4 linked regions of the Homo sapiens genome follow. The protein of the gene in region 4 purifies or fractionates together with the protein of the main gene of each other region. This does not show direct contact. Each region holds a gene or a part of one and is shown on either strand. Other genes may lie near its edges.

Evidence for each region. Proteins that work in one complex are often made in the same cells at the same time.
Region 1: the proteins of TAS2R7 (region 4) and BIRC2 purify together in Homo sapiens (affinity purification with mass spectrometry; 3 studies listed by BioGRID and IntAct, with this or other methods). This does not show direct contact.
Region 2: the proteins of TAS2R7 (region 4) and ATP2B2 purify together in Homo sapiens (affinity purification with mass spectrometry, with the first as the bait; one large-scale study listed by BioGRID). This does not show direct contact.
Region 3: the proteins of TAS2R7 (region 4) and GNAQ purify together in Homo sapiens (affinity purification with mass spectrometry; 2 studies listed by BioGRID and IntAct, with this or other methods). This does not show direct contact.

Annotation. Positions count from the first base shown.
Region 1 is NC_000011.10:102,349,692-102,354,970, reverse strand, and holds part of BIRC2 (baculoviral IAP repeat-containing protein 2), read right to left. Parts: 5' UTR 5,117-5,279; coding exon 4,222-5,116; intron 4,128-4,221; coding exon 4,028-4,127; intron 1-4,027. UniProt on the Homo sapiens protein: Multi-functional protein which regulates not only caspases and apoptosis, but also modulates inflammatory signaling and immunity, mitogenic kinase signaling, and cell proliferation, as well as cell invasion and metastasis.
Region 2 is NC_000003.12:10,333,330-10,338,608, reverse strand, and holds part of ATP2B2 (plasma membrane calcium-transporting ATPase 2), read left to right. Parts: intron 1-250; coding exon 251-433; intron 434-2,308; coding exon of another isoform or gene 2,309-2,480; intron 2,481-5,279. UniProt on the Homo sapiens protein: ATP-driven Ca(2+) ion pump involved in the maintenance of basal intracellular Ca(2+) levels in specialized cells of cerebellar circuit and vestibular and cochlear systems.
Region 3 is NC_000009.12:77,719,555-77,724,833, forward strand, and holds part of GNAQ (guanine nucleotide-binding protein G(q) subunit alpha), read right to left. Parts: intron 1,960-5,279; coding exon 1,769-1,959; 3' UTR 1-1,768.
Region 4 is NC_000012.12:10,800,182-10,804,954, forward strand, and holds TAS2R7 (taste receptor type 2 member 7), read right to left. Parts: upstream 2,447-4,773; 5' UTR 2,390-2,446; coding exon 1,433-2,389; 3' UTR 1,351-1,432; downstream 1-1,350.

The DNA of each region.
Region 1 (5,279 bases), on a different chromosome or scaffold from region 4:
ATAGCAAAAAAAAAAAAAAAAAAAAACCCAAATAATTCAGGTTAGAAAACGGGCAAAGGACCTGAACAGAAATTTTCCCAAAGATATACAAATGGCCAACAGGTACATGAAAAGGTGTTCAATGTCACTGATCATCAGGGAAATGCAAATTAAAACCAAAATGAAATATCACCTCCCACCTGTAATGATGCCTTATTATCATCGGAGACAAGAAATAACAAAAGTTGGCAAAGATGTGAAGAAAAGGGAACCCTTGACCATTGTTGGTAATTTACTACTGTCATTATGGAAAACAGTATAGAGGTTGCTCAAAAAACTAAAAATAGAATTAGCATATGATCTAGCAATCCCACTTCTGTGTACATATCTGAAGGAAATGAAATCAGTATCTCAGAGATATCTCTACTCCCATGTTCAAGCAGCTATATGGAAACAACTTAAGTGTCTACTAAGGGATGAATGGGGGATGAGCCTGGCTGGGCGTGGTGGTTCACGCCTATAATCCCATCCACTCCGGGTGGATCACTTGAGATCAGGAGTCTGAGACCAGCCTGGCCAACATGGTGAAACCCCGTCTCTACAAAAACAGAGTAATTAGCCGGACATGATGGCAGGTGCCTATAATGTCAGCTACTCAAGAGGCTGAGGCAGGAGAATCGCTTGAAGCCAGGAGGTGGAGATTGCAGTGAGCCTAGATGGTGCCACTGCACTCCAACCTGGACAACAGAGTGAGACTCCATCTCAAAATAAATAAAATAAAATAAAATCCTACCATCTGCAACATGAATGAACCTGGAAGGCATTATGCCAAGTGAAATATGCCAGAGAAAGACAAATACAACTGGCCCTTGAACAACACAGGTTTGAACTGCACATGTCCATTTACACCCAGATTTTTCTCAACCAAATGCAGATCACATTTGCAGATGTGAAACCCACATATTTGGAGGGCTGAATTTTGGATGCACAGGTTCTGCAGAGTCAACTTCTGGACTTCAGTATGTGCGAATTTTGGTATACATGGGGGTCCTAGAACCAGTCCTCCGAGCATACCAAGGGACAACTATACTGTATGGTAACCAAACTCACAGAAACAGAGAGTAGAATGCTGGTTGCCAGGGATAAGGGGGTAGGTGAAATGGGAAGATGTTGGTTAAAGAACACAAACTTTCTGAGGATCTAATGTACAGCACATGGTGACTATAGCTAATAATACTGGACCTTATACCTGAAATTTGCGAAAGAGCATCTTTTAAGAGTTCTCACCAAAAAAAAAAAAAAAAAAAAAAAAGAAAGTTACTACATAAGGTGATGGATTTACTGAGATTAAAGATTATTCCCAGTTGAAATGTGGGCTGGGCTCAGTGGCTCATGCCTGTAAGCCCAGCACTTTGGGAGGCCAAGGCAGGCAGATCACTTGAGGTCAGAAGTTTGAGACTAGACTGGCCAACATAGCGAAACTGCGTCTCTACTAAAAATACAAAAACTACTGAGTGTGGTGGCGTGTGCCTATAATTCCAGCTACTCGGGGGGCTGAGGCTTGAACCCAGGAGGTGGAGGTTGCAGTGAACTGCCATCTTGCCACTGCACTCCAGCAGTGATAGGTGATGGAATGAGACACTGTCTCAAAAAAATAAAAAAAAGGAAAAAAGAAATGTGTTGTTTTCAGAGAAGCATTTACAAAACACGCCCCTACATCTTCTCCCTTAATCATTTAAAACAAAACACAAGTTACAAAAATAAAGATTTTGATTTTGTTTTATAAGGTACAAAATGTAGCAGTTCCAACACTGGAATTTGGAAGCTGTTTTTGTCTTTGATACCACAACATGGATTAAATTTCAAATTAATGTATATAATCCCATAGAGCCCAACATAATTAAGTCATTTAAAAGTCTGATAAAACATGCTTTTTAATTTTAAACATAATTAATAATTTAGTCATTTTTCAGTGTAAAAAAGTCAAAATTTATCTTGATATATTATTAATATTAATAACTTTAAAATACAACTTTTAACAATGTACTGATCCATAATAAAGTATTTGTTACTTCAAGTTTCTTTTTCATCATATATCATACAAAATGACGAAAACTTTTTAAATTTCCTGAAGGGGTTCAAGAGATTCTTCATTATTGTGAAAGACACTCACAGGTAAAAACATAATCTGTGATGTATGATTCCACTTATATATGATGCCTAGAGTAGTCAAATTCATAGAGACAGAAATAGAATGGTGCGGCAGGGGGCAGTGGCTCATGCCTGTAATCCCAGCACTTTCGGAGGCAAAGGTGAGCAGATCACTTGAGCTCAGGAGTTCAAGACCAGCCTGGCCAACATGGTGAAACCCTGTCTCTACTAAAAACCCTGTCTCTACTAAAAATACAAAAAAATTAACCAGGCATGGTGGCAGGCACCTATAATCCCAGCTACTCAGGAGGCTGAGGCAGGAGAATCGCTTGAACCTGGGAGGTGGAGGTTGCAGTGAGCCAAGATCGTGTCACTGCACTCCAGCCTGGATGACAGAGTGAGACTCCACCTCAAAAAAACAAACAAGGGCTGGACGCGGTGGCTCACGCCTGTAATCCCAGCACTTTGGGAGGCTGAGGTGGGTGGATCACGAGGTCAGGAGATCGAGACCATCCTGTCTAACATGGTGAAATCCCATCTCTACTAAAAAGTACAAAAAATTAGCCGGGCGTGGCAGCGGGCGCCTGTAGTCCCAGCTACTCGGGAGGCTGAGGCAGGAGAATGGCGTGAACCCGGGAGGTGGAGCTTACAGTGAGCCGAGATCGCGCCACTGCTCTCCAGCCTGGGTGACAGAGTGAGACTCCGTCTCAAAAAAAACAAAACAAAAAAAAAAAAAAAGAGAAAGACAATGGTGGTTGCCAGGATGTTGGGGAATGGGATAATGGTGAATTAGTACTTGATGGGTAGACAGTTTCAGTTTGGGAAGATGCAAAGGTTCTGGAGATGGATAGCGGTATAATCGCAGAACGGTTAAGAATGTACTTAATGACACACAACTATACACTTAAAAAATGGTTAAGATGGTAAATGTTATGCCTATTTTATCACTATTTTAAAAAATTATCTAGGCCAACCCCTCCTCATTTTACAAACAACGTCCAAGTTCACATAGCTACTCAATTACAAAGACAATTTAATTCTATTTCTACTAATAACACTGCCCCTAAATTATTTCTAGGCTATAATAAAAAAAGACACTGCTAGAGACAAAGTGGCTAAAAGGAGGTAAATGACAAAAAAAAATTGTACAGAAAAAATAATTTACAATTACAATTAAAATGGGCAGTCAGATATGCTTTTTTCTTTTTTTTTTTTTTTTTTTTTTTGAGACAGAGTCTTGCTCTGTTACCCAGGCTGGAGTTCAGTGGCACAATCCTGGCTCACTGCAGCCTCCGCCTCCTGAGCTCAAGCGATTCTCCTGTCTCAGCCTCCCGAGAAGCTGGGACTACGGCCACGCGCCACCACGCCCAGCTAGTTTTTGTATTTTTAGTACATACGGGGTTTCACCATGTTGGTCAGGCTGGTCTCAAACTCCTGACCTCAGGTGATCCACCTATCTCGGCCTCCCAAAGTGCTGGGATTACAGGTGTGAGCCACCACGCCCATCTAAGATATGCTCTTAATACATGGACTTTTACATTTGACTTATTCCTGCATCCATTCTATGTCCCTTCTTGTTTTCCTGTTCTTACCTTTTTCTAACGTCTTTTTAATCTATTTTATATGTCTTTGTAATCCTTAAGTACTCTTTAAAAGAAATGGGAAATAAATAAAATGTACGGTCATACTTGTAACTGACTTACAAAAGTACACAGAAGACTGCAGAATATTTTTCAACAAAATAATTAAAGTTAAAATGTGATCTTTTAGAAGGATAATTCCCCAATGGCATAAAAGAGGCTTTGTTATAATTTAAAGGTAAACAAAATCATGTAGGCATGCCTACTTCTTTTAAGCACAGAGTTTTTTGTACAAATACCTTTTTCAAAACAATTACCTTGGAAACCACTTGGCATGTTCTACCCATGGATCATCTCCAGATTCCCAACACCTCAAGCCACCATCACAACAAAAGCATTTGACATCATCATTGCGACCTTCAGGAAAAAAAAGACTAAATATTGAAAACACGTATGTTCTAATATGTAAATTAAAATAAAATGATAAAATGTATAGTTATTTGCTTCTTACCCACATAATAAAAACCAGCACTTGCAAGCTGCTCAGGCTGAACTGGAACACTAGATGGCCAGTACATAAATGTTCTCATTCGAGCTGCATGTGTCTGCATGCTCAGATTTGAAATGCTAAACCTCAGAGTTTCTAGAGAATTTTCCAAAAATGGACAGTTGGGAAAATGCCTCCGGTGTTCTGACATAGCATCATCCTTTGGTTCCCAGTTACTGAGCTTCCCACCACAGGCAAAGCAGGCTACCCTATCTCCAGGTCCTATATAATAAAAACCAGCTCTTGCCAATTCTGATGGTGACAAAAAAGTTAATGGCCACATATGGTAGGTAAGAAATCTGGCTTCTTCAGTACTCATTGCATAACTGTAGGGGTTAGTCCTCGATGAAGAGATGTCTTCAACTGCTCTAGAATTAAGAGGGTTTGGAGAAAGGCTGGAGTAAGAACCACTGAACAAGCTACTATGTTCCAAGGTGGGAGATAATGAATGTGCAAAACTGTTTCTCATTGGAGACGTATTCTTAGAGGTGGATCCCAGACTAGCTGAAACCAGATTCTGAATAAAGCTACAGCTAGGATATAGCTGTTTATGCTTTTGAATAGGACTGTCTCCTAGTTTCCAGTTATCCAGCATCAGGCCACAACAGAAGCATTTGACCTTGTCATTCACACCAGTATAATAAAAACCAGCACGAGCAAGACTCCTTTCTGAGACAGGCACCCCGGCGGGGAAAGTTGAATATGTAGACATTCTGTAGAGTTCACAGGAAAAGTCATACTTCATTTTTTGTTTGTTGCTGTTTGTCCAATCTGACAAGATCGTGCTATCTTCCATTATACTCTTAATGTTTTGATACGAGGGACCTGGGAAAAGTCTTTGGGAGGCAGTTTTGTGCATGAGTAGGTGACAGTACTGTTTGATAGCTAAAACATTCACATGAAATTTCTTCACATGAACTAAGATTTTTACCACAAAAAGAAATCAATGATAGACTCTTATGTAGAATTTACTACACTTTCTTTACTGGATTTATCTCAGTTTATATTCAGGTAGGATGAGT
Region 2 (5,279 bases), on a different chromosome or scaffold from region 4:
AATGAATTAAAAAGCAAATTGCACTCCAGCCTGGGCAACAAGAGTGAAACTCCATCTCAAAAAAAAAAAAAAAAAAAAAAAAGACATTGTCAAAGACTGGGCTGAGGAACAGGTGAGGTGGGTGAAGGAGTAGATTGATCACATGCCTGGGTGAGCGGGTAGGAGGAGGGAGGTAGAGGAGCGGGTGTCAGGGAGAGAAGGCCACTGGGAAGGACAGCCCCACCGTCCTGACAGACAGGGTCCCTTGCAGGTCATCGCCACCATCCCGACCAGCAGACTCAAGTTCCTCAAGGAGGCAGGCAGGCTCACACAGAAGGAGGAGATCCCGGAGGAGGAGCTCAACGAGGACGTGGAGGAGATCGACCACGCGGAGCGGGAGCTGCGGCGGGGCCAGATCCTGTGGTTCCGAGGCCTGAATCGGATCCAGACACAGGTACAGGAGGCTCTTGGGGGCTGGGCCCAGGCCTGGCCGGGGCGGGCCAGGGGATGGAGGTGAGTGTGCTTGTGCTGCCCCCCAGGGCCCAGCTCTGGTGCTGAGGGAGGGTGGCTACAGAGGGGTCCCGGCCAGCTCTCACCAGCCACTTGCACACCCACTCCTGTGGCTGCTAAGGAACAGCACGGCCTCCTCAGAGAGGTCCCATTGTGCCCTCTCAGGGCAGCACGGGGAAGTGGTAGGGGTCACACCCACCATGGTCTCCAGGGGGATTTCCCTGAGAGGGTGGGGAAGGGTGGCTCTGAGGGCAGAGGTGAGTGAGGGGACTGTCGCTCAGGGCTGGGGGCACCCACCCACAGGGGCCGTGTGAGGCTGGACAGAAGCTGCAGGCCAGGTCGCCCAGGGTCCCCCAGGGCGTGGTGGTCAGGGGGTCCGCCGCCTCCACGGGGGCTTCAGTTGCTCTCCCCAGCTTCCCCTAGGGGGTGGAGAGGCTCTGGGGAGCAAAGGTCAGTCATCCTCAAGCACACACAGACACACATGCACACACCAAGCACACCAGGGGAGCACAGGTGCAGGGCGTAGCCAGCCAGAAGCAGGTTTCTTCCCCAGAGCAGAGAGAGCATGGCTGCCACGTGGCACACGACACACCTGCGCGCCTCCCCCGACCCCCCCACACACATACCACATGCTCTCACATGGTCCCCTTATGCCTGGAGCAGGTGTTGTAGCTCACAAGTGCTGTCACAGCCCTGCGAGGGGAGGGTCAGAAGGGACTCTGTGGGTCTCTTGCCCAGACCATCTGGGGAGCTGGAGTGGGAGCTCCTCCATGCCCCAGCATGCTTGGGCGAAGTGCAGTGTAGAAGCAGCCACCTGGCCACCATCCTGCCAGCTGTGGCCCAGCACCTCATTTCCATCCGATGTAGCAGAGAGCTCACCTGGGTCACCTCCCACCCCTCTGTACCCTGTCCCAAACCTCACCTCATGTGACCTTCACAGCCCTGGGAGGTAGATGTGACTCCCCCAGTTTTAGAGGTTACCAAGGTCCAGGAGATGGCCCCTTCTACTGAGCTGGCACAGCTGGGGTGGGGACTGGAAGCCGGTTTCAGACCCGGAGGTGCCTGACACGGGCCTGGGCTCACCCTCCCTGGTTAGGGCCCCGCAGCCACCCCTCCCAGCCTGCCCCCACCTCCTGGGAGGTCCAGGACAACTCAGTGAATATGTCCCTGGTGCTGTCACTGCCCTGGCGGCAAAGCCACGCAGGGGTCTCCAGATTACGGGAGGAAGCAAGGACTGCGATTTCTTGAGTGGGCAGGGGCGCCTGTCTTGCCTGCCTCTTGCGGAATGCTAACACGGGTCAGGTGCTTTGCCACTTACAGATAACCCTGCCAGGCAGGTGGCATTGACCCTTCTTAAGAACAAGAAACTCGACTCAGAGAGGTGGCTTGCCCAAGGTCAGCTAGCTAGTAAGTGACAGAGCTGGAATTTAGGCCAAGCTCTGTCCACCTCAGGACCCCCACCACACCCTCTACCTCCACGCCTGTACCTGAGGGAGGCTGAACACTGCTCTCTTCCCTCCAGATACCATGTTTAATCACTGCCTCCCCCACTGGCCAGCCCACTGGCCCCTGAGCCACTAGCACAGGACAAAGGCCGGACCCCCTGTGTCCTCCCGGGGACCCTGGGGCCTGCAGGTGGGCCCAGAGCTGAGCAGACGTTTTTCAGAGCCTTGGAGTGTGTCTGGTATTTTTGTTTTGATTTAAGTGACATTGTCGTTGTTGCCGTGGCTGCGGCTGTTCTTGTGACGTTGCCCTGTCAGTCATGTAGCCGTTGTGCTCGTTCTTCTCGCAACTTGTCTCGTTCTCTCCTCCGTTGCAGATTGAAGTAGTCAATACTTTCAAGAGCGGGGCCTCCTTTCAGGGGGCCCTGCGGAGACAGTCCTCGGTCACCAGCCAGAGCCAGGATGTAGCCAATCTCTCTAGCCCTAGTCGCGTGTCGTTGTCCAATGCTCTTTCCTCTCCGACCAGCCTTCCTCCTGCTGCAGCCGGGCGTGAGTGTGACTCCTTACTGCCTCCGGCTGGCACTGCCCACGCCAGCTCCCAGGCGGGCAGGGGCTGGGGCACCAGAGGACATGGGGGGCAGCCGGTCACAATCAGGCCCAGGGGGATGAAGGGTCCCAGCCACCGAAGAGGGTCCCGTTGGTCAGGAGAGCGTAGCCAGTCATGCGGTGGCAGTCACTCAGTGGACCAGGGTCAGTCAGAGGGTCATTAGGGTCCCAAGTGGCCAAAAAGTCTGGTTCAGTCAAGGGGTCACCCTTGGTCAAGAGGACATCAGTGACCAAATGGTCCCAACCCACCACAGGGTCCCGGCAGCCAGAGGGGGACAGACATGGAGGGGACACAGAGTGTCCCACTGGCCTAGGGTCATATGTGGTCAGGAAAAGCCTGGACCACCAAGGCAAGGGTTGGAGTTGGACAAGAGGTCCCAGTCTTGCAGTCAAAGTCAGCAGAAGGGTCACTGTGGGTCAAGGGGAGCAAGCCCCTTAGGGTCCCAGTCAGTCACATTGGGATCCACCCAGGAGAGGGTCACGTCAACCAGACTTTCCCAGTTGGTCAGGGGGCACCCACAGTAATGAGGGTCATGGTCAAGGGGGACAGTTGAGCCAAGAGGTCACTGCAGGTCAGAGGTCATAGTCAGCCAGGGATCCCCAGGCCACCTAGGAGCTCACAGCCTAGACGCTGCACCCCAGCAGTTCAGAGTCTCTGCCCGCTTCCTGTCACTCCTCCCCTTGCACTTTTGACTGCATCAGCTGCCCTGCAGACACCTTTCCCTGTGGCTGAGCTTGGAACTTGCTGAAGTTCTAAGCCCTTCCTGGAAAGGACAAGGTCCCTGGCCCATTCAGCTTGACCCCTGGTAGAAAATGGTGGGTCGAGCCTCACATCTTGCCTGGGTGCCAGCAGGCCCAGAGGGACCTGATATGCCCTTCAGCATCCTGCCCTCCTTTATCTGAGAGATAGCCTGGGACTGTGGCCCCTCCTTCATCTCCCTCCTGCCAAGCTCATCTCCTCATGCCACCACTTCTGATCTAGATCACTCATTGCTGGCTTTGTCTAGCTCTTTCCCGGACCCATGGCTTCGGGCCCCATAGGGAACAAGTCTGTCTTTCCTCCCATCGCCCTGCTATGTTTCCAGTCAGGCGCTTCTGATCTGCAGGGGAGCCCCTGGTTCTGGTCTTCTCCAATTGGCATAGTGTCAGTCTTAGCCTCCAGCTTCTTTGATGAGAAGTAGACTCCAGCTCACCCCTTGAAACTTTATAAAGGGCCTCTACCCCCATCCAAAACCAGAACACCCACAACACAACCCCTGCAGCCAAGCAGGTAACCCGGTGTGCTGGTGGGAGCGCCTCCCTCAGTGCCTCCAGTAGGAGGCGCGGGCCACAGGGAGCCTGTTGATGGCAAATGTCCACGACCCATAGCGGCAGGACAGAAGCAGAAAGCAGGGAAGGAGCCTCTCAGTGCTCATTCGTCAGCACAGAAACGCAGTGCTGGGGAGGACCGGGGAGCCAAGATGAAATGGAGATGCATTTCAGCAGATGGTGGCTGAGTCACATTTCCATGAGATACCGTCACTAGGCAGTCACTGCCAGGATTTCTCGGGGAAGGCAACACCGGTCCCATCCTCCTCCCCTTTAGACCAGAGAGCTCTCACCTTAGCAGCAGCCTAGCCAGCTGACCTCCCAGCTCCTTTCTGCACCAACTCAGCTCTGGCCTTGCTCAGCACCCCCACCTATCCTGAGGTGCGGTAACCAAGTGTCCCGGCAGGGAGAGCTACATGGGGAAGAATCCACTTCTGTTCTGCCACCCCTCCCGATGACTCCTGCGGCCCTCCGGCTGGGGCTGCCTGCTAGCAGTCTGGCTTCTGGGTGAAGGCCCAGTTCTTTGTCCATCCCAGTTGAGCCTCTTTCTTGAAGGGCAGCACTTCACCCTGGCCACGACGGAGCACACCTGACATCGCTGGGCAGGCCCACTGCCTTTGGAAGTCGTCCCCGAGTCAGCCCCTCATCTTAGCTTTCACAGCCTGGAAGCTAGAGCTGTCCGCTCAAACCTCAGCCACTTCTTTCTCAGCTTTTCTTCTGCCTCATTTGCAAAGCCATTCAATAGGGCCCGTCCGGGAACAACACTTCTTTGCAGAAATGCCCTTTTCTTCATTTCTGCAGAAATGCTTAGACAGGAATGTGTCTACACTGACCTCCTTCGAGGCCAGATCAGTCCCCTGTAGCCCGTGGTTACCCCAACTTTGGAACAGTCTTGGAAAAGAAGCCCAGGCAGAGGCTCAGCCAAAGCCAACTTGACAGTCCTTGCCCTGACCCCTCATTCTCTCAGGGGACCCGGCAGGGTTGGCCAGGGCCTCCCCACCCTGCTCACCATCTTGCCTCTCCCTCTTCATGCCTCCTGGAGAATCTCGCATTCCCCCTCTGTGACAGAATCCAGCCTGTAATTCTGGGTGCCTCCTGAGACCCTTCCTGAGCCTATAGTCTTAAAAAGAGCCTGACCAAACCCCTGCCTGAGGGCACTGGTTCCCAGACAGGATCACAGCCTCTGTGGTTTCAGTACACACATTTGGACAACACAGCCTCGTGCCTCCTTTGCTTGAGTAGTGTCTACAACAGTGCTGCCTCCTCTGGTCTCCAAGGACTCTGAGGACCCTCTAAACACCAGCCAAGGTCCCTGCAGAAGCCAGTGTGCTTTCCTCCCACAGGGAGGTTTAAACAGGTGGCCAGGAAGTGACAGAAGGGCCCCAATTTGATGGGATGAGGAAGTGGGCCGCCCCACTACCCCACAACTCCTTC
Region 3 (5,279 bases), on a different chromosome or scaffold from region 4:
TTGTTCCAAAAGAGTGATTTATATGGAAGTTTACACTAGTGCCAAATACCACTGTAGTTAAAATGAGACCAGTATCATGGCCTAATTCTAACGTCCCAGCAGCTTTGAACAATCATGATTTATTTTCTTAAATCAAATTTCAACTCAAGCTGCTTGACAGAAGCTTGTCAATACATGTGCTGTATTTTTTTTGCATTTGTTGAAAAATTGCACATATAGAATTCCAAACATTTCTCCTGGTAGGTTCAGTTACACAAATACATGTTCTATAGAACACTGAGAGGTTACTTTTGAGTTAAGTCCACAAATCTTCCATAAGTTCAACCTAATCAGTTACCAGTTCAAGAAGATCATGAAGGTGGTAAACTAGCAGGAACTTCAGATTTTGGAAATTAAAGGTGTCGGAATAATACTACCAACCAATGTTCCTGGCAGACTTCATTGAACTTAAAGAACCACTGAGAGTAAAACTGGTTTCAAATAAAGAGACATAAACAGATTTCCTGTTAAACCACACAGGATACTTTTTACATTGCCGGTTTGGACACTGAACATGGGACGTGAACACTAACAATGTCATCTTAAGGACAAAGAAAAGAATGGACCGTGAGAATCAAATTTCTAGTTACAACTGTTTGGCAAATGGCATTTCTGGTTCATTCTCAGCCAGTCATTTTAGGCTTCACAGTCTTACTCTCTTACATTTTAAGATACCAGCTTTTATTTTTTAAGTTCGTATTCATTTTATTTGACAAAAAGCCAGCTTTGGCAACACATACCCATAATAAAAGTCATTTTAAAATCGTGGCCCAAACACCAAGAAAAAAAAGAAAGGAAAAGCTTGAACAACAACAACAAAAAAATTAAGAACAACCTATAAAAAGGTTCTGGGTAGCAGCCATTAGGGTAATGTAGTGTCTGTTGGCATCTTTTTTGGCATCTGCAATTGAAAGAGAGGGTAAGAAAAAGAAGCAAAGAAGGGAGGAAAGACAATGGCACGTGGCATTTCAAAAGAAAGGACTCCTGTGTGTCTTTGATCCTGCCTTCTGCATATTTCTCTGAGCAATCAAGCTATGGCTGAAGGTAAACATCTAAAAGAAATGACACTTAACTTTTAGATGGGCATCCACTGTCCCAGTCCAAAGTGAGACAAGACAGTATATTCTATTAAAAAAGAAACTATGTGTGTATCCAAAGCAACACATTTAAAACCGTAAGTATTAATACATATAATCCTTCAGCAAAAACTACAAACTTAAATTAAGCTGATGATGGCTTAAATCGAACGATGTGTCCTGACTGTATCATTTGAGAGAAAAACTTGACCAAGAATGGAACTAGGATAAAGGCCATTGTAACCTGGGAAAAACATCAGGAGGGAGGTATGAATTAGCGGGGGAAGAAAAAAGGGAAATCAGCTTTGTTTTGCTCCATAGAAAAGAAAAAGAGAGAGAGACAGAAAGAAACAAGTCTTATCTTTGTGAGTGCATGACTGAGAATTTAAAATACACTGAGTCACAAGGTTTTGCCTAAAAAAAAGATAGAGAGGAAATGTGCTGGGACTGTACTTCAGCATCCTCTGTTTTTCCTCTGAATAGTTTAAATAAAATCATAATATTTACTACAAACTCTGTGGACACGCTCACACAGAGTCCAGGACGGCAATAAATTAGTATTATGCAAATTGTTTTCCACAGAAATACAGTCCCTCTTGTGTATCTTCAATAGCCCACCAGGGAAGGGCAGGGCGGGTGTCTAGGAGGCACAATTAGACCAGATTGTACTCCTTCAGGTTCAACTGGAGGATGGTGTCCTTGACGGCAGCAAAGACAAAGCGGATATTCTCGGTGTCTGTGGCGCACGTGAAGTGGGAGTAGATAATTTTGTCACTGTCTGGGTTCAGGTCCACGAACATCTTCAGAATGAATTCTCGGGCTGCCTGGGCATCTCTCTGGGGTCCTTTCGGCCAAGAGACAAGAGGGACACTTTGTTACCTAATCTGCTAATGTATTCAATCATCATTGGTTCAATAAATACTGTGTCATTGCTCATGAAGCCTACATCTGCACTGCAGATTTGATCTGTTATAATCATTTTCCCTAACACTGCTATGTCTGACCATCCATCCACCCACCCAGGCACCCACCCATTCACAAAATGTGGATAGGTGAAAGCAGACAGATGACTTGAAAGCCAAGGCTAAGTTTATTTCTTAGCTTGGCCTTCACTCTGATTCCCTGAGTGATTGGGAGCCACTGTAGGCTCTTCATCAGGGGAGTGATAGCTTACTTCTGTTCAACTGAGTTAAGTATGCTTGTTTCAGCTATATAATAAGTGTGCACAAAGATACAGCTGCCTCGGGCTCTCCTGTCAATCTGTCCTCCAAACGACCCAATATTATGGATCATTTTACATCTTCCAGACTGACATCTCTCTTAGAACACCTGTTTGTAAGGTCAGGTCTATCTACAATGGGCCTCTGTAACAGTCTCACTTCCATAGATTTCTGGTATTTCTGAGCACACTACATTTGTGTAGCATTCAGTTCATGTGTGATGATAAAACAATTGGTTTATATTTTCTTTTCTTTTTTTTTTTTTGAGATGGAGTCTCATTCTGTTGCCCAGGTAAGAGTGCAGTGATAAGATCTCAGCTCACTGCAACCTCTGCCTCCCAGGTTCAAGCGATTCTCTTGCCTCAGCCTCCTGAGCAGCTGGGATTACTGGTGCCTGCCATCATGCTTGGCTAATTTTTATATTTTTAGTAGAGACAAGGTTTTGCCATGTTGGCCAGGCTGTTCTCAAACTCCTAATCTCAGGTGATCCACCCGCCTTGGCCTCCCAAAGTGCTGGGATTACAGGTGTGAGCCACTGTGCCCAACCTATATTTTCTTACATTGATTTAAGAAGGAGTCTCTTATGTACCAAGAATTCTCCTAGATGCTTTGAAAAAGGATTGTGACATATCTAGCAAGATAAACTAAAAATGTAATTTTGCAATGGATTCTTAGATATGACACCACAGCACAGGTCATATTTTTCACAAAAGAAAAAATAAATTGGACTTCATCAAAATTAAAAACTTTATGTATCTAAGGACTTTTTTTTTTTTTTTTTTTTTGAGACAGGGTCTTGCTCTGCTACCCAGGCTACAGTGTAGTGGAATGATCATGGCTCACTGCAGCCTCAACCTTCTGGGTTCAAGTGATCCTCTTGCCTCAGCCTCCTGAATAGCTGAAACTATAGGTGCCACCAAGCCTGGCTAATTTTTAAACTTTTTGTAAAGATGGGGGTATCACTATGTTGTCTTGAACTTCTGGCCTCAAGCAGTCCTCCCACTTCAGCCTCCCAAAGTGCTGGGATTATAAGCATGAGCTACCACACCTGGCCAAGGCCATTATTAAGAAAGTGAAAAGCCAATCTATAGAATGGGAGAAAATATTTACAAATCATGTCATCTGATAGGCGTTTAGTGTCCAGAATATATAAAGAGCTCCTACAATTCAATAACAAAAAACCCAATTAAAAAATAGGCAAAAGACTTGAACAGACATTTTTCTAAAGAAGATATACAAATGGTCAATAAGCACAGGAAAAGATGCTCAATAATGGTAATCATTTAGAAAAATGCATATCAAAACCACAGTGACAGACCTCTCCACATCTACTAGCATGGCTATAAAATTAACAAGGGTTTGGGAAAATATGGAGAGATTTGTACTCTTGTGCACTGTTGGGAATGTACAAAGGTGCAGCTGCTGTGAAAACAGTTTGGTGGTTCCTCAAAAAGCTAAACATAGAATAACCATATGACCGACCCTGCTAGTCTACTCCAATGTATATATCTAAAGGAATTGAGAGCAGGGGCTCTGATAGACACTTGATCTTAGTCAAAAGGGCAAGAAGCAATGTACATCAATTTTAATAGCAGCATTGTTAACAACAGCTAAAAGGCGAAAACAATCCAAGTGTCCATCAACAGATACATGGAGAAACAAAACCAAACCAAACAGAATATCAGAATATCAGAAACAAAAAGAATATTATTCAGCCATAAAAAAGAGTAAAGCTCTGACAGATGCTGTAATATGCATGAACTGTGAGAACATTATAATAAATAAACCCAACATAAAATAACAAATATTGTATGCTTGCACACATATGACGTACTTAGAATTGGTAAACTCATAAAGACAGAAAGTAGATTAGAGGTTTCCAAGGGTTAGGGGGAGGAAGGAAATGGGGTGTTGCTGCTTAATTGGGGTGGTGAAAATATTTTGAAAATACTGGTGATGGCTGCACAGTATTGTGAGTGTAATTAATGCCTTTTATGAATTGTGCACTTAAAAATGTTAAAATGGCAAATTTTATAATTAAAAAAAGTACTATATCAAAACCCACTGAATTGTACACTTTAAATAAGTGAATTACATGGTATATAAATAATCTCAATAAAGCTGTTTTAAAAGTGTATTTAATAGGTACCGATAGATATATTAACTTAAAACTTACTGTAAATAACATCAAAACACCATCACCTTTCAAGTATTGGATACGTATCATATATCTGTCTTTGTGTTGCTTTATATATGCATTTCCTCCTATTTTTTCAAGTTAGTTCTATACCAAGCAATAAGAAACTTTTTTTTTTCCTTGAGACAGAGTTTCACTGTGTTGCCCAGGCTGGAGTGCAGTGCCATGATCTTGGCTCACTGCAACCTCCACCTCCTGGGTTCAAGCGAAATCTCCTGCCTCAGCCTCGTGGGTAGCTGGGACTACAGGCGTGCACCACCATGCCCAGCTAATTTTTGTATTTTTAGAAGAGAAGAGACAGGGTTTTGCCATGTTGACCAGGCTGGTCTTCAACTCCTGGCCTCAAGGGATCCGCCCACCTTGGCCTCCCAAAGTGCTGAGATTACAGGCGTGAGCCACCACACCCAGCAGGTTTTTTTCTATCATCAATATTCTTGTTACCTACTAGTAGGGATAAAGAGATCTTGCAGAACTCTATTGAGGGCTTGACCACCATTTCTAACAAAATGCACCCTGAGCTTCAGACAGCTGACTTGAATTATTCTCAAACCAACCTTTTTATAAATTGGAGATTACTCCAATAAACTTATATCTGATAATGCCAGAAGATGGGAGGAAAGAATTATAAAAACAAATAGACTATCCTCATTTGTACAATTTAAAAAAGTAATGTTGAATTTTTGATGTAGGTGCCCAGAATTCAATTTTTTTAATGACTAAGAGGGCTGGCATCATATTTAATAGATA
Region 4 (4,773 bases):
AAGAGGAAGATGAAAAGACCTAACTACCATGTGAGCTATTTTGAGTTCAATTAAGTTATTAAGAATTGTTCTAAATGGATTCAACGAACCTCTGGGTTACTGTTCTAATAAAACATTTCTACAAGTTTTTACTGTAATACAAATAATCATGTTTAACCATGAAAACTTTTTTTCTCTCTTTATTTACAAATATTTTCTTTTTTGTACACAAAGTTCCTGGCTACTCTAGGCTGGTTAGTACAGGGTTGATCACCCTAAAATATCTTTGCCACAATATGAATGATGTGCTTTTGATGGTATGTCCCAGATACATATTTCCTTTTGTGGCCTGACATATGGCATTGTCTGGAGAATATTCAATATATGCTTGAAAAGAGAATGTGTTGTCTCTTCCTTTTATGGAATCTTTCATAAATATCAGATCAGGTTGCTTGATAGTGTTTGTTAATGTATTCTATATTCTTACAGATGTTCTGTTGTTCAACAAATTACTGAAATAGAATCATTGAACCCTTTAAAAAAAGATGTCTTATATACAATCCAAACAATATTTCTCTGGGATGTAGAGATGATCTACATTGAGGCAATATATCCTTTGAGAGTTTTGACATTTTAGCATAACCATGTATTAGCTTTTGATTGAATGTCTTGTCACAGCATCTTGATAATCATTGCCTGGTGCAGTCCGTGGACATACGTCTTTTGTGGAGAAATTTTCTTCAATAAATAATTAATAGTTCAATTTAGGCTTCTTATTTTATAGACATTTTCTACATAATTTTTCTCACTTTTACTTATAGATTGTCCTTCATTCATTGATCTGCAATTCTCAAATAATCTTTGAACTTACTGTGACAATATATTTAGCCATAATATATACCTTTTCTGTGATTATAAGATTATTCATAGAATTCCACAGCATTTATTAAGAACTGTCACTTTATTGAGTCTTTCCCAAAAGTAGAGCTTTGTTGGATGATCCAAGAGGAACCATCTAACGCGGACTATGAGAAGGAACTAGTTGCTTTTCATAAAGATGCAAATAACAGCAAGATGCTGTTACAGTTGTTTTGAATTAGTCACACAACTTTGCATCTGGAAACACGGTTTAGAACTATGAAAATGCCCTCTACTCTTGATAGTTGATATTAGGATATTAATTTCTATTTGCTCTGAAACATGTTTTAAAAAACAGCAACTCTAAAGAAAGGAAGAGTTACAGAAGAGAGAAACAGGGATACACAGACAGAGTCAGAAACAGAGACAGAGATAAAGAGATCCAGCCAGCTGTACATAAGATTCCCTACATTACAATTACAGATACACTAATTAAGTTTTAGGAGTAATTAATCACATAAAACATTAATGCAAGAACTGAAGTTAATTTAGAAACATCTTATCTTTGTTTGTCCTAGAAAAGCATAGTTTCTCTTCAGATTTGTTTATGTTGTTGGAATTTTCTTCCTTTTAGAATAGACATTACTTTCCAAATCACCTTTAGAGATGCATGTCTTAATTTATTGTTCCCCAGTATTAGGATAAATGAATGACTTGAGGGGTAGATTAGAGCTATGGACTCACCAAAAATCACAGCTAATTCCGTCTCTGGCATAAAGTAGCTGGAGGTGGCAATGAGAAAGGACAAATAGTAGGCAATAAAGAGGAGAAGGAAGGAAATGACAGCTTTCAGGGCTCTCACATGGGCTTCTGTGCTGGGGTCTCTGCACCCTGTGGCACTGAGCTGCATTCGCCTGATATGTCTCCGCAGGGAGAGGATCAAGAGGAAAAAGGACATTAGGCACACACAAAAGGGGAGCAGCGTTGCCAGGTTGAGAAATAACTTGGTAGAAGCATGTTGAGTTTTATTTACTCTGCAACTCCAAGTTAAGTTTGTTTTCCTCTTTGCCTTCACACAAAACCTGAAATCAGCGTTCAAATTCTCAGTGGCTGGAAGGCTAATAAACACAGAGAGAACCACGCACCCCAGTAGAATCCAGGAAATCACCCTGTCAATTCTCCACTTCATCCAGAGGAAAAGTGGGTGAAAGAAATTACCTATCTTGAAGAAATAGTAAATGCTGAGGCAGGTTGCAAACCAGATACTTAAATGATTGGTTAGTGTCCAGAAGAAGTCAATGATTCTCATTTCTTTACCAGTGGCATAGACATCTGGATATAGCACCAATATAAAACAATCTAATAGTATTACGCACAATAGACAAATTCTGGATATGGCCAGACTTGTGAGGATTAAATCAATGGAGGCAATTTTCCTCTTCTTGACCCAGTCCATGCAGTTTACCAATCCAATGAATGCATTCCCTAAGATCCCCACTGAAAACTCTCCAACTGCTAAGAACAATAAAGTAGTCTGCACTTTATCTGCCATGTTTAAATATGCAATTAGTTTCTAGTTGACCTGATGGAGTTTGACATCCACACCTGCTTCTTAGATTTTGATGTAGTTTTCTTTACCTCTTTGTTGTAGTCTGTTTTGTGATGGAGACTGGAATGATAAATGAAGACTGGAGCTATCTTCATTAAATCCTAATTAGTCTTGACAAACAATGTGTTTGGCGATCCTTGGCCTGGCCACTGTATGCCCATTTACCTACTCAGCAGGTTGTAATTTTCCACATACGGTTAATTTAGGCTGAGCTACTGTTTACTAAGATGCAAATTGGGCCAATTCCCTTTCATGGTCCTGCATTGTCTTTCTGAGGCTAAGGTGTACGCATTTTGGATTCATTAATTTGTGATGTATGCTAGTAACCTCAATAGGGTTGCTAGATTTAGCGACTAAAAATTCAGGACACTCAGTTAAACTTGAATTACAGGTAAAAAAATCAATAATTTTTTAGTGTATGTCCCTGATTACTTAAGATCAGTGCTTTCAGGAAGTACTGAAGTTCAAATTAGATTGAGTGTTCCATTCTGGCAACCTGAACATCAAGAATTTGGTAGCAAGTATAAAACTGGTAAAATTGGAAAGTTCTTGAAGAATTTTTATTTTGCTGAATGTTAATATTGATAATTAGTAAAGAATCCAAAGTTTGGTTCCATAGTGAGAGTTATATATTTTCAGGAACTTTAAAAAGTTAACACTAAATGTAGGTTATTTGATTCCAAAGAAACTTTAGGTCATTATTTTGGCTGTTCAGATGAACAATTACATGGCATAGTGTCTCTTAATACAACACATTGTCTTACTGACTAAATGACTTTTAATGGTTATTTAGCAATGTTATATATAATAAGGTAGAGGACCTGTAATAAAAAAAGACTATTGATTACCTTAAATTTTTCATTTTCACTTAAAATGTTCTCAAGGAAACTTTGAGAGGTATTAGATATGTCCATTACCTTGTTTGTGGTGAAGATATCATGGGTGTTTGAAATTTTATACATTAAATATATGCGGTTCTTTTTATACCAATTATACTTTCATAAAGATTTCAAAAATTTAAAAAATGTTCTCAAGGGTAGTTGTATGCATGAGAGAGGAGATAGTAAAATTCTGTATTTCATTCTCTCCACTGTCCTCCATACAAATTGCATGAGTATCTAGATCCTCAACCCTTCTAGCAGGAGACTGAAGATTAAACTTTCCACATCTCTAGAGATGAATTTTTAGTTTGAAATAGCTTCTCTAATTTAGAGTTACTGAGAAGCGCTTTACTACATGGGGTTCCATAGAATAGTTCTTGGGTATTCACACCTTCCTGGGAATGCATGTCTTCTCTTATCCTTCCTTAAAGGACAAACCATCATTCCGGAGATGTAGCCTTAACTTTTGGACAATCTGTATGATTATGTAGCCATGTTCACAGGCAACTGGAACATCACCTATGATAGGACGATCTTGGATATGATCCCTGACCTAGACTTATCATTTCTTTTGTTTTTTTTTTGAGATGGAATTTCGTTCTTGTTGCTCAGGCTGGAGTGCTATTTTGGCTCACCGCAACCTCCATCTCCCAGGTTCAAGTGATTCTCCTGCCTGAGCCTGCCAAGTAGCTGGGATTACAGGCAGGTGCAACCATGCCTGGCTAATTTTGTATTTTTAGTAGATTCCGGGTTTCTCCATGTTGGTCAGGCTGGTCTTGAACTCCCGACCTCAGGCGATCCGTGTGCCTTGGCCTCCCAAAGTTCTGGGATTACAGGTGTGAGCCACTGTGCCTGGCCTAGACTCATCATTTTTACCCTACAGTTTATCCTGGTAAATGAAGTGCTCATGGGAACTATGATGATGTATTTTCTCAAATAATTTTTAGACTTGTTTTTGTTTAGTTTTGGAAATAAATGTAGATTTTATGAATACCAATGTTGTATAGCGTGAAGTTATGTGAATATATAGTTAAAAAAAAAGTTCTATGAGAGAGCATTTTGTCAAAAGCTTACTACTTTGAACCCCAGTCACTGTGGTCACTAGAGATGCTTGAAACATTAGAGAGGCAGGAAACAAAATATGGAAGAAAAAAACTTAACCCTAATGGGGTAAAACCTTCCCAAAAGTACTAATTCAATAAAACGTTTATTTCACTTAAACCTTAGGAAAAATATAAAGTTCATCCTAGTATAAAATCTACCTGTATTTTGTAGAATACATTAATATATTTCATCAAGAGAACATGAATTCTTGTGTCTTGTAAAACAAAGAGTAACATATACAGCTAGCATATTAGAAATATAGTTCATAAAATTTATATACTTGGGGCTATAAATATTAGTACTTTACAGAGTGAGTTTTACATAATAATAAGACAAACAACT